2 linked regions of the Homo sapiens genome follow. The protein of the gene in region 1 interacts with the protein of each later gene in a pairwise test. Each region holds a gene or a part of one and is shown in the gene's direction. Other genes may lie near its edges.

Region 1 (4,977 bases):
CCACAGTGTGTACCAAGTGTGGAGGGGCTGGCCACATTGCTTCAGACTGTAAATTCCAAAGGTGAGGGGCTGGCTCTTGCGGTTTCCTGGTAGCCTGCGATGTGCAGGACAACTTTTCTGGCACATTCATTGGTTGCTGTTAATCTTACCAAGAGAAACATCCTTTCTGTTAGTGTGGTCTGTAATGGTGTGATTTAAAGCCCAGGATGATTAGAAATAGGCTGTACAGATACCCCTGTTTGTTTGTCTTGAGCCCAAGAAAACTGGAAGTTTCCATTTTGGGTATGTTTTTACTGGGGCTCAATAGGAAATTCACTGCTTTTGCTGTTCAGAATTGGTTCAAGAAGACTAAGCAATCTCTACAGATTTCTGACCAGTTGCAAGTCAGCACTCGATATCAACACTTTCTGACTGGCTGGCGAATATGTAAGGTTTTGTTTAGGAAGTTCGTTCTGGCAGTTGTGCCAGTCTTGCATAGATTTTCCTTTCCTCAAACTGGGAATGAAGTTTGATGAAATTGACTTGAGAGAACCTGTGCTTCATCGGTGCTCAGGGTCTCCTGTGCTCTTCGCCCAGGGGCCCCTCTACTCTGGTGATCCCAGATGCAGAACTGGGCACGAAACTGAAGATCTGATGAGACTGTTGAGAGCCATGCCCAGTAAGGGGTTAGAAAGATGTGTGATGATCTGGTGATTGAATTCTTCAGAACTTTCCATATGTTGGTTCCTCAGGATAAAAGCTTCCTTCTTAACAAGTTTTTCCCCTTTCTCTGTTTGTGTCCCCCACCCCACTTCAGGCCTGGTGATCCTCAGTCAGCTCAGGATAAAGCACGGATGGATAAAGAATATTTGTCCCTCATGGCTGAACTGGGTGAAGCACCTGTCCCAGCATCTGTGGGCTCCACCTCTGGGCCTGCCACCACACCCCTGGCCAGCGCACCTCGTCCTGCTGCTCCCGCCAACAACCCACCTCCACCGGTGAGCCTGGGGGCTGGCTCTCTTGGTCTGGCTTCCCCATTCTCTACTGCAGAGACTGGGAGCTATGGCCACGTGGTTTGGGTAGAGCAGACAATGGATGTGGATGGCAACATTGTTCTTCCGGGATCTCAGGCCAGTTTGGGGACTTCTCACTTCGGGAAGACCTTGTTCTTGTGTTCTGGTCCTGTGTCATAACCCGAAGAACAATGTTGCCACTAGGAGGCGCAGGCAGGGACGTTGGCAGGAAATGCTCTCACGTAGTCTCTCATGTCTACCACCCAGAGCCGCCCACCCTGGATGAATTCTGGCCCTTCAGAGAGTCGGCCCTACCACGGCATGCATGGAGGTGGTCCTGGTGGGCCCGGAGGTGGCCCCCACAGCTTCCCACACCCATTACCCAGCCTGACAGGTGGGCATGGTGGACATCCCATGCAGCACAACCCCAATGGACCCCCACCCCCTTGGATGCAGCCACCACCACCACCGATGAACCAGGGCCCCCACCCTCCTGGGCACCATGGCCCTCCTCCAATGGGTAAGTAAGTGTCAGACCAGAAACCTTGGGGGCTTTGGGATAAGCAAGGGGTTACGTCAGGTCGCTGTTGGCTAGAAGCAGCTCTCAAGTGGCTGGGCAATGTGCTGGGTCTGCCTGGCTTGCCAGGGTTGTGGCTCTGGAAGGAGCAAGACTCCATTCTGGTTCAGGGAGTGATTCTGTGTTGGGTAAGCACAGACCTGCCTTTTACAGGCATGGTTTTCAGAACTCGCGTAAGGATAGCAACTGAGGTTATCACAGGGGTGGCTTCCCTGGCCAGTTCCAATGTCCTGCTAAGTCCCTGCTCTTTCCTTCCATCAAGATCAGTACCTGGGAAGTACGCCTGTGGGCTCTGGGGTCTATCGCCTGCATCAAGGAAAAGGTAATGGCTGTCTGCTGGCTGTGGGTCTTCACCTAGGCTTGGGTGAGTGGGGGTTCTGGCCCAAGTCCCCGCCTTTCCCTGAGGCCTCATCTTTGCCTCCACCTGTCCACAGGTATGATGCCGCCACCACCTATGGGCATGATGCCGCCGCCGCCGCCGCCTCCCAGTGGGCAGCCCCCACCCCCTCCCTCTGGTCCTCTTCCCCCATGGCAACAACAGCAGCAGCAGCCTCCGCCACCCCCTCCGCCCAGCAGCAGTATGGCTTCCAGTACCCCCTTGCCATGGCAGCAAAGTGAGTAGAATATTTTGGGCTTGTGGGGGTGGGTGGGATGGGGGTGGGGCTGACAGGAACCATAGAGCCTCACACAAGCAGGCAGGTGTCTTGGGATGAGCCCCTGGGCTCTGCTGGGGTTGTAAACAGAAAGGGCCTCCTGGTCCAGGGGGTGGAGGGGCATCTTGAAGAGGAGAGCTGATGTTTGGTGTGGTTGTGTCTGGGGAGAGGTTCGTGGGGGCCTGGAGGGGAGCCTGCTATTGTAGGTAGGGGGCCAGAAGTCCAGACCCTCGCAGGCTGAGTGAGCGGCTGGCTGGACTGAGCCTGGTGCATATGGGTCGAGTGGGATGGTGCATGCTTGCTCTGGCAAGGGCTGCGATTGGGGTGAGAGACTGCAGAGGTGGGACTGGGCAGTGGGGAGACAGCAGCTGTGGCCTTGAGGTTGAATGTGCCGTTCGGTGGTGGCGGCGGCTGGGCGGAGGGACATCAGAGCTGTTCTTGTGTCTGGTACCTTCCCCTCAGCCCTTCCAGGGGCATTGGTGACAAAGGGCTTACTCTGTTAAGCCCAGAGACCTCGAGGCTGACCCCAGGGTAGTCCTGCCCACCCCTCCACTCCCCATCACCAGCCCCGCCCACCCGCCCCCCACCACCGTACCGCATGCCAAGCAAGGAGCAGGCGCCCCTCGCCCCCATCCCAAGGCAGCAGCCGCAGACAGCCGCGGTGTGCCCCCGCGCGTGTGACCTTGGGCTTCTTTACCACCCCAGATACGACGACTACCACCACGAGCGCTGGCACAGGGTCCATCCCGCCATGGCAACAGCAGCAGGCGGCTGCCGCAGCTTCTCCAGGAGCCCCTCAGATGCAAGGCAACCCCACTATGGTGCCCCTGCCCCCCGGGGTCCAGCCGCCTCTGCCGCCTGGGGCCCCTCCCCCTCCGCCGCCTCCACCGCCTGGTTCCGCCGGCATGATGTATGCCCCGCCCCCTCCTCCTCCGCCTCCCATGGACCCTTCTAACTTTGTCACCATGATGGGCATGGGGGTGGCGGGCATGCCGCCCTTCGGGATGCCTCCAGCTCCCCCACCGCCTCCACCACAGAACTAGACTTGTTTTTTAAGAAAATATATATTATATATAGAGAGAATTGGTCTCGTTTAAACACGCCGAACCTCACCATATGGAGCCAGACATTGGGACGCACGCATGTGATTGTGTGTGCACGCATGTGTGTGTGTGCACGCACTGGGCTGGGCCAAGCGACTGAGGATTCGCTTGGGAACGGGCAGGTGGTAGTAGGGGCGCCAGCTTGGGCTCTCCTGGCGCCCCGTAGCATCGAGTGTCTTCTTTGTCTTCTTTCTCTCCTCACCCAACTCCCTTTGCCTCTCCCCAAACCGGGCCGCCAGGATCCCTCCCCGCGGCGGCGATGGCCCGAGCCATGAGAGTGAGGACTTTCCGCGCCCATTGGTGACCCTTCCAGGCAGACAGCCTCAGCAACGCCCCTGGTGGACAGGATGGTTCGGCAAAGCAGCCTGAGTTATTTTTGTGGACGGAATCGGAACACGCTGGCTCCATATCGTGAAATTTTTATTAATTTTTTTCTTTTTCCTTTGTTACTTCTTTATCTTTTCCTTTCTTCAGACTCCGTCCAAGGAGATGCTCTCCCCGGTCTTCTGCTGCAATTTAGATTCCTTTCCCTTCTCTCCAGTTCTCCTTCCCTTACCAAGGAGAGGGGAGCAAATGGTTTTGGGCAAGGGCTTTGGCCATTCATGTCAAGCTGGTTGTGGGTTTTTCAAGGTGCCATAGCCACCCCCAAAGATGTTTGTTTAAAGCGTGGGGTTTTTTAATCTCTGCCACCCTTGTCAAGGGAGTCTTGTAAAGTTGCCGAGGGTAGGTTCATCTCCAGGTTTCGGGATTCCCATCCGTCCTGGCGATCCTGCCAGCAGTGGGTGGGCAGCCTGAGCTCCCTCGGGCTCGCCTGCCAGCCTGGAGTTCTTCCTGTGCTCCTTGATCACCTGAGCTGCCTCAGATTCCATTTGGTCCTCTCCTTCCTGGAAGGCTTCCTTTTATGTTTTGTTTTAATCCCAAATGTCTGAATGTTTTGCAGTGTGTAGGGGTTTGAGCCCCTTGTTCATTCTCCTTCCTTTTTCCTCCCGCTTCCCTCTCCATGAAGTGATTCTGTTGACAATAATGTATACTGCGCGTTCTCTTCACTGGTTTATCTGCAGAAATTTCTCTGGGCTTTTTTCGGTGTTAGATTCAACACTGCGCTAAAGCGGGGATGTTCCATTGAATAAAAGAGCAGTGTGGTTTTCTGGGTCTGCTTCTTTATTTTCTTTTTAATGCCTGCCCCGCCCGGTTTTTCTTTTCACATAAACTTCCTCTACCACCAGCAGCAGCAGCAGCACCAAAGGTGCCTTAACTTTCGTTCAGCACCAGGTCCGGGGGGGTGAGACTGTGGGTGGTTAATTAGGGAAGCCCACCACCTGCCTCCTGTGTGTGGCTTTGGTGGTGGGAGCTCAGTGTGTGGGTGGCTCCACAGTCTCCCCTTTGGTGACTAGTTAACATCGCTGAGAACCAATTTTGCCCCTCCTTGTTCACTGCTCATTTTTCTAGTCTCTGTCCTTTGAAGGCTTTTTCCTGGGGCTCAGACGTCCACGTTTGATGAGCTCCAGTGGTGATTTGTGCCTGGAAGCTGCCACCTAAGGCCCTGGGCCTGGGGAGGCATCAACACTAAAGGTCAAGCCAACTAATCCTGCCTGTCAGGCACAGAGCAGCTAAAATTAAAACCGCCAAGTGGCTTTTTTCCTTCTCTGCTG
Region 2 (8,097 bases), on another chromosome or scaffold:
ATCAGAGAGATTAGGGAGTGGTAGGGGGCTTATTAAGTAGAGTGAGCTGGGTAGAGTATTGAGATTACATTGGCTTTTATTCTGAACTAGGGCGAGGTATTGGAAGATTTCGAATGAAGGACTGACATGATCTGACTCAATATTAGCCCCAGTGGTCAAAATGAAGTGGAAGATACAGAATAGAGAGACAGGAGAAGTCTTTTCCAGAGAGAAGTATCCAGGTTTAAGATGATATGAAAAAAGTATCAGTGAGAGGAAAGTTGCTATTTTGAGAAGTTTTCACTGACATTTAAAGGAGAGTGAAAGCAGCTTTTGATAAACTCTTGGAATCACAGATTTAATCTATCTAGGCTTTTGAAAATGTCCATTACCTAGTTGTCGAAGCCATTCTTCATTTGAATTTTTAATTCAAGCAAACATGATTTTATAAGGAATGTTACAAAAAACACTGAAAAATAATGAATGCATCTGATAATGCAATTATAAAAATAATCAGAATTAAAATGATACAGCCCTATTAATTTCATAATTTATAAAAATAAGATGCCTTTCTTAGTGTGGGATGGTGTAGTATAGAAAAGTATAGCCTATCTGAAGCAAGGAGTATGATAGAAAACATGATATTCCTTCTATAAATGCATGTCTACTCATTTATCGAACTTTGCTCTATAGGTTTGGGCATAATTAAGAATCAGGTAAAAAAAAAATCAGGAATAGATTCATTATTCCTTTTTGGGGTGGGGTCAGGGAGGGGACAGGGTCTTGCTCTGTCACCCAGGCTGGAGCACATACAGTGTCGTGATCTTGGCTCATTGCAGCCTCGACTTCCTGAGCTCAAGTGATCCTCCCAACTCTGCCTCCCAAGTAGCTGGGATTACAGGCATGTGCTATCACGCCCAGTTAGATTTTGTTTGTTTGTTTTTGAGATGGAGTCTTGCTCTGTTGTTGCCCGGGCTGGAGTACAGTGGCGCAATCTCAGCTCCCTGCAACCTTCGCCTCCCGGGTTCAAGTGATTCTCCTGCCTCAGCCTCCTGGGTAGCTGGGATTACAGGTGTGTGCCACCTTGCCCAGCTAATTTTTGTATTTTTAGTAGAGACACGGTTTCACCGTGTTCGTCAGGCTGATCTCGAATTCCCGACCTCGTGATCCACCTGCCTTGGCCTCCCAAAGTGCTCAGATTACAGGAGTGAGCCCCTGCACCCAGCCAAATTGTACTTCCTAATAGGTGCAATTTCCAGCAGCTTTTGACCAATATTTTTTCCTTTTTCACTGCTAAAAGTACAGATTATCATCCAGGTACCATTGAAATGCAGTTGCTGTCTGAGCTATTCAGCCGTATCTTTGGCAGATGTCTAGTGTTATTCATCACTCCTGTAACGACCTTAGCAAAAGATTGTACATGATTCACACAACTTGTCCTTGAGAGATTTTTCAAAGTTGAGCTGAGTTGTGAGGAAGTATTCTAAACCTTGCTGTCCTGAAGTATAGTTCATAGACCAGCAGCATTGGCATCACCTGGAAGTTTGTTTAGAACAGAAACTCAGGCGACATCTCAGACCTAAGGAAGCAAAATCTGCATTTTAATAACATCTCCAGTTGATGTATATATATTAAAGGTGGTAAAGCACTGGTCTAAAACAATCTTGGTGGAAATGAAATGTTTTTTTCTCTGTCTTCTTTCAGGTCTTTGTTGAGTATGCAAATGCTGGTGATTCCAAAGCTGCGCAGAAATTACTGACTGGAAGGATGTTTGATGGGAAGTTTGTTGTGGCTACATTCTACCCGCTGAGTGCCTACAAGAGGGGATATCTGTATCAAACCTTGCTTTAATCAGTAACCTAAGGACTGTTTCCTTTTTCTCCTCTTCCATTTCTTGGGTTATTCCACATATGAATGCAGGACTACCCCCTTACCATTTTAAGAAGGTACTTTATACATTTATTTAATCCTACTAATGTGCAGCCATTGCCCAAGCAGTGACTGCGTTGCATACATTTGGCACTGAGTAGGACAAGACCTCTCAGCTATACATTGAGGGGTTTTAGAGCATCCATGTGGGCAACCCTTTTTTGTGCGGGAGAGCAGGTGTTGCTCTTCAGTATGTAGCCTAAAAAAATCTTAATTATTTCATGGATCATGAAGCAAGGATGAATAATATCATGTCTTGGTAAATACTAACAAATTTGTTAGGTTTGGTGACATCATTTACAGATTATTTCTTTATGTTGTCCAGTGGTTCTTCCTTATTGTTGATATCCATAAGCTGGCACTGGATGCTCTCAGTAATGTTAAGTAATTGTCAAGCAGCAGTTACCTACTGTGTTCTTAACACTGAGTTGTGAATTTTTTCTTAAAGCAGTACTGTAGTACTGAATATTCCTTTAAAGGAACTGCAGTGAGCCTATCTAAGTTTTTTTAAATTAAGGCTTTTAAAATAGAAAGCTGATGCTTGATCTTGCACAATTTTTATGTCTAGTATGTATGCTTGAGTGAATGTGCGAGTATGAATGATTAGAGAAAATTTGAGTCAGTGTACTTTATAGTGTGAATCCTGTGAGCTAATACAGTCTATACTTATTTCTTCCCTACCTGTTTCACATCCGTAAGATTTAAGATATACATTTTTTGAGAGGTAGTCTGTCTGATACAATGTAAATGACAAAACATAATTCCTGAGAGGCCCAGAACAAACTGGAGTCTAGCCTGGAGTTAAATTGAGACTTCTAAAATGATTGGAACAAAGACTAAGTTGTGCCAGATGTAAATCAACCCCTCTTTTAGTTTACTTTAGACTTTGTATTAGCTCATCTTTTTTGTAGTAAATCTATAGTTTTAAGGTTTCTCAAGATGTGGCTCTACCTACTATGATGAAAATTGAAGTGGGTCAAAAGAATTAGATGTACAGTGAAGGGAAAAGAAAAAAAATGGGCGAAGAGAGGGTGGAAAATAAAAGGATTCTTTTTTCTTCCTTTCTGTTTCTCGTATCCCTGCTCCCTTTTTCCTCCCCTTCCCTCATTCTTTGCCTCTATCCTTAGCTGAAGACAAACTAGAGGAGCAGCATCCCAGGTAGTTTGGCTTTTGACTGCAAGGTAGTTAAGAAAGGTGTAGATATAATGAGGTAGAAGTAGAAAGGAAGAAAAACTCAAAGAATTCTTAAAAGGATTCATAGCAACATAATGTGTCCCTGAGTAGAGGATGCTGCTATGCGTGAGTTCATGGACACAAGTTGATTACATGGTTTTTAGAATTATAATTATGGATTCTTCTTATTTCATGGTAGGTTGTCTTTAAAGATATAAAAATTAGGATGCCTTTATGAAGCACTGATTATACCAAAAAAAAAAGACAAGTTATATACAGGTTATTAATTTTTTTATTTATTTATTTTTTCCTAAGGAAAAAGTCTTCTATCTTTCCCTGCTGGAAGCCTCCTCATATTTCCTTATGTTTGCCATGCAGGTTGCTGAGAGTCCAGTTAGAATTTGCATTTTACAGAATGAAATACTTTACCCCATTCAAACAATTATTGTTTGACATTTTAGTTATTTATAATTGTCAAATTCAGGACTCTCCTTTAATGTTTATTATGAAACCAAATTTGGCATAAGGAGGCTGATTTATGAATTACCAAAGGGTCTTGTGGCATGTTCCCCAATACATGCCCTTAGAAGGAAGAACTATTATTTTTTATTTTGGCCCTTTCAGGAGTTGATTATAAATTGGTTTGTTTTCAAGTCAGAATTCAAGTGGGCAGAACCCGTATTGTGAAGACCTAAACTTTCCTAAATGTTCATATGGGTAGCAGATTTTGTGGTGATTAGAAACATCAGGTCCTTAAATACGATGAACATGGGATACAAAGGAATTCTTTATAAGGGCAAGTATCCTAAGTTAGCACATTTACTTTTCTCTCCCCTCCGCCCCCAAAAGAAAAATCCTTACAAATAAACTGCAGGTAGGCTTCTAAGCCTAGTCCTGCAGTATGCTGCTAACATCTTGATGCCAATCTTCACAGCATTCTTTGATTGTCATCTTATTGCTGATACATTCATACATATATTTAGTGCTTGACACTGTAGAATTTTGTTACAGAAGATGGTTACTAGATTTTAAGGGAGCTGAGGGAATAATTGATGAGCCTTGAATTAACCATGCATTTAATTAGATTTTTTGTTGTTGTTGTTGTTGTTTTGAGATGATGTCTTGCTCTGTTGCCCAGGCTGGAGTGCAGTGGCTCAATCTCGGCTCACTGCAACCTCTGCCTCGCAGGTTTGAGCGATTCTCCTGTCTCAGCCTCCCCAGTAGCTGGGTTTACAGGCGCTTGCCACCACACCTGGCTAGATGTTTTATATTAAAGCCAGAGAATTGAAAAAGAAATGCCTCCTGTGATTGAAATTATTTTATAGCTCTTAGCCCGTTCTACCAAAGATCACATTAGCAGATTACCCCTCCCTCCTGTGATATTATCTTTCTTAAACCTGAACCAAATATCAAAAGATACAAGTTTCATGATTAGGATGAAATATATACATAGGGATTTTGGTTTATTGAAGTTATTGAAAGACCTAGAAATTTTCTTTTTGAGAGAAAGGGTAAAGAGGTGAGGGTTCATGTCACTTAACCCCTACCCTTTTGGGCAAATTTTGTCTCAGGTAGTGTTTCATTCCCTAAATTAATACCTGTGCTTCCTTGCCTCTCACCTTCCCAGTTACTTCTTTGGGGTATTACTGTGGCACATTGTACACCCAGAAAAGGCACATACAGTGATTATTTTGTGGGAAATACTTGATTCTTTTGAAATATATTTGGAGGGGGTAGCTAGCTAGCCACTGTCAAAACTAATGCTGTATTTACAGGACAAAAACAAGTAGAGTTGGACACCTCAGTAAGAGACAGCATTAACTAAAAGTACTGACTGCCTTTTAAAGGAATTTTTAAAACTATTCTCTTGCAATAAGAGATCCGCATTTATTACCACTGGATGTCTTCCTTTTTTGTGGCCACCAATATAGCAGCTCTCTTTAGAGGGATTCCCTTTCTGCTATGCCTTGAGCCAAACTGGCTGCTTTTAGAACAAAAACCATAAGTATGGTTTTACTCGAACTTCTCTTTGTTTTTATTGAGAGAAATATTGCCTTCTTTTTGGTACTCCAGCTGCTAAAGAGTGCTGAGATATGTTAAATTATTTTTTAAAAGAAAATCTCCAAATACTTATTTAACTTGTCTTCTAGATTCATGTTGCTTATATTTTAACTATTGAGCAAGTTTATTATAAGGAATGCTGCCATATAGAGAAAGCTGAAGAGAAACCATGGGCAGAAGGCTTTTTTCTGTCTTATTACACTGGACCTTCACTCTGGTAAGGGCATCAGTTACTTTTCTGGAATAAAAGGCGGAGTTAGAGCACTTATCAGATGCTGTTTCATGGCTTGTTTTAGTTAATTTATCATGCAGATAACTAACATTTGGGTATCTTTTTGTTTTAGGTCTTATTTTCTGACTGTTAGGCCTATCTTACACATAAGTTCTACTATCAGTATACTTGGCAGCATGACTTTTTTTTTTTTTTACAGTTAATTTAATGAAAATCAGCACCATTGTAAATGATAGTAATTGTAACAACATAGTTACTGGGTGAAGGAGTAGGGGAGACACTCAGTAACCATCTATTTACCTAGACACTTATGCAGGGGTACATGCTAGGTGGCTTTATTCAGATTCGGGTACATTGGAATCACATCATGACTTTGAGTCTGATGGCTGTGTAGATAAAGATTTAAGCAAGTGCCTTGTGTTTGCTGGAAAATATTAAAACTCATTTGGGTGAAAGCTTCCCAGATGATGATAATTAATAGCACTTCTGCCTTTTTCCTGGAGTAACTTTTAGATTGAGTCACATATGATAGTATAAAAGTCCAAAATTTTCTGGGTTTACCTTTGTTTTATTTTTCATATATATATTCACTGTCTGCCTGGAAATAGCCTTGGTTTACCTTATTTTTTTGTATATGTAAAACTATTCATATTTGATTTTATTCCAATATTATATATGATGGAAAAGCCAGAATTGTCTGGCAGAATTTAATTCTTCCTTGGATCTCTAGTTCTGTTTTTAATATCAGGTTCCTTCATCAAATTTTACTACTGTAGCTCTGTGATATAATTTCATTTCTTGTCAATTATGGTCACATATAGACAAGTACTTGGTCACAATTAGCTCAAAAGAATCCCCATTTCTTAAGGTGCTCAGTCAATCACCTTTATTTTGAGATGGTAGTTTTTCAAGTTAGTATTACTTACTAGCTTTCTTGATGAATATAAAAATGTTGTCTCCATCATACAGAGCTGAGCCTCTTGTGGTATATTAAGATAAGTCCCATTCTTAATCACAGAAGAACATGGATATTTTAGTTTTTGGAGTACCCAGAATTGTAAAGATTTTGTTTCATTTTGTTTTAGGATAGCTTCTCTGCCTAATACTATAGGATATGTCATGTTCGTTATTGTAGCCACCTCCCTCAGATGTTTTTCACTATTTTTAAATTATATAATGACCAGTAGATTCACAGTAGCATGTACTTGACAAGTGCCATGGATATTTAAGAAGAAGGTAAATAATTTTAATATTTTTTGCTGTAATTTTATAGGAGCAGTGGACTGTAAGAGAAATATCTATAAATCAGAGAGTATTTAGGAAACTTTGTATTTTATAGGTGGTCATTAAAGTGATCTTCAGGATATAAGATAGTTTACACAAACTTTATTCTCCTGATAGGAAATTTTTATTCATTTTCCTACCACTCAGCACTTTTGTTCTGCCTTGTACTGCTTATGAGGATTAATGTTTTAAATTTGCTTTATTTGTGCTTTTCAGAGAGTTGTCATAATTGTGGCAGTTGTGTTTGTGGCACTGTAAATGCTGAAATTCATGGGAAACTTACCAAATGACTGCTTGAGTGTTATTTCCCATTAAATTGGGTAGCTGTCACAATAACCAGAAGAAATCTTGTGGCCCTTTTGAAGAAAGCCATGTATGTTTTGTTACCTAGGTTCATAGTATTTTAATTTAAAGGCAAAGAGAAGCATTCTACTTATTTGTCTTATAAACCATTAATCGTTTTTTGTGCAGAAGAGAGCTTATTTTGTTATACTGCTTTGTATAATGGAAATAAGTCACATTCTGGGGGAAAAAAACTGGAATTGTTTGTATTTTGTTTTTTTGGGGGGGGATCTTTATGTGAAAAATCAGAGCTACTTGTTACCATAAGCCCTTACTATCAACAAGATAATTATTTGTAATCACTTTTTTATCCCAGGTTGGAATTGCTTTCCCCTTCTAAGTTATCTTCCCTTAATAATATTTATGATACCAGGACAGTGAGGGTATAAGAGCAAATGTAGTGAGGTATTCAAAAATCCTGCATATATGGACTCAAAAGTTCTTTAGTTATTTGAATTATATATAGCTATATTATTTTATTAGCTTGGGTTGTCAGAAGATTGCCAATTTTAAGAGTAAAGAGGAGAGAGATAAGTAATAAAAATAGAGGAGGGGAAGAAAATGGCTCCCTTACTGGTCTTAGTAATCTTCTATATAGTTAATGAGCTAAAAAATGATACTTAAAGTTCCAGGTTTGGTACCGCTAGCATAGAAACATTGCCTTTCCTACACATTCCTCATCATTGTTTCCTCAGAAAATTATTTTAAGAGTTTGTGAAACCAGATTAAATATCTATATTCAGTTTGGCCTAATTTTTAAAAATAAATATTTATACTCCAGCTTTTGTGTATTTGGTGTACATCACCACTTATGCAAATCAAGGATCAGAAAACTGGAGGTTAGCCATCTCCATTATTTCCTTTTGCACATTGGGTACAGTGGGTGGCATTAGTATGCACTAGCTGCAAAGTCACAGCACCTTATGGAAATAAGTATGTTTATTATAATAAAAAAAAGTTAAGCTGCATCTCTGTAGATTATTTACTTTGCAGACTGTAAAGCTGCCCTATCTTTTCCAGCAGAATTTACTCTTCCATTCTTAATTCTTTTTTGAAATATCTTAAATAATTTAACATTCCTTTATAACTTCTTAACA

Evidence for each region. The genes of interacting proteins can lie anywhere in the genome.
Region 2: the proteins of SF1 (region 1) and UHMK1 interact in binary tests that used the Homo sapiens proteins (3 or more experiments, as listed by UniProt).

Annotation. Positions count from the first base shown.
Region 1 is NC_000011.10:64,764,106-64,769,082, reverse strand, and holds the end of SF1 (splicing factor 1), read left to right. Parts: coding exon 1-61; intron 62-796; coding exon 797-977; intron 978-1,238; coding exon 1,239-1,512; coding exon of another isoform or gene 1,513-1,516; intron 1,517-1,831; coding exon 1,832-1,891; intron 1,892-2,003; coding exon 2,004-2,183; intron 2,184-2,927; coding exon 2,928-3,265; 3' UTR 3,266-3,564; coding exon of another isoform or gene 3,565-3,694; 3' UTR 3,695-4,477; downstream 4,478-4,977. UniProt on the Homo sapiens protein: Necessary for the ATP-dependent first step of spliceosome assembly. Binds to the intron branch point sequence (BPS) 5'-UACUAAC-3' of the pre-mRNA. May act as transcription repressor.
Region 2 is NC_000001.11:162,520,721-162,528,817, forward strand, and holds part of UHMK1 (serine/threonine-protein kinase Kist), read left to right. Parts: intron 1-1,683; coding exon 1,684-1,830; 3' UTR 1,831-8,097. UniProt on the Homo sapiens protein: Upon serum stimulation, phosphorylates CDKN1B/p27Kip1, thus controlling CDKN1B subcellular location and cell cycle progression in G1 phase. May be involved in trafficking and/or processing of RNA.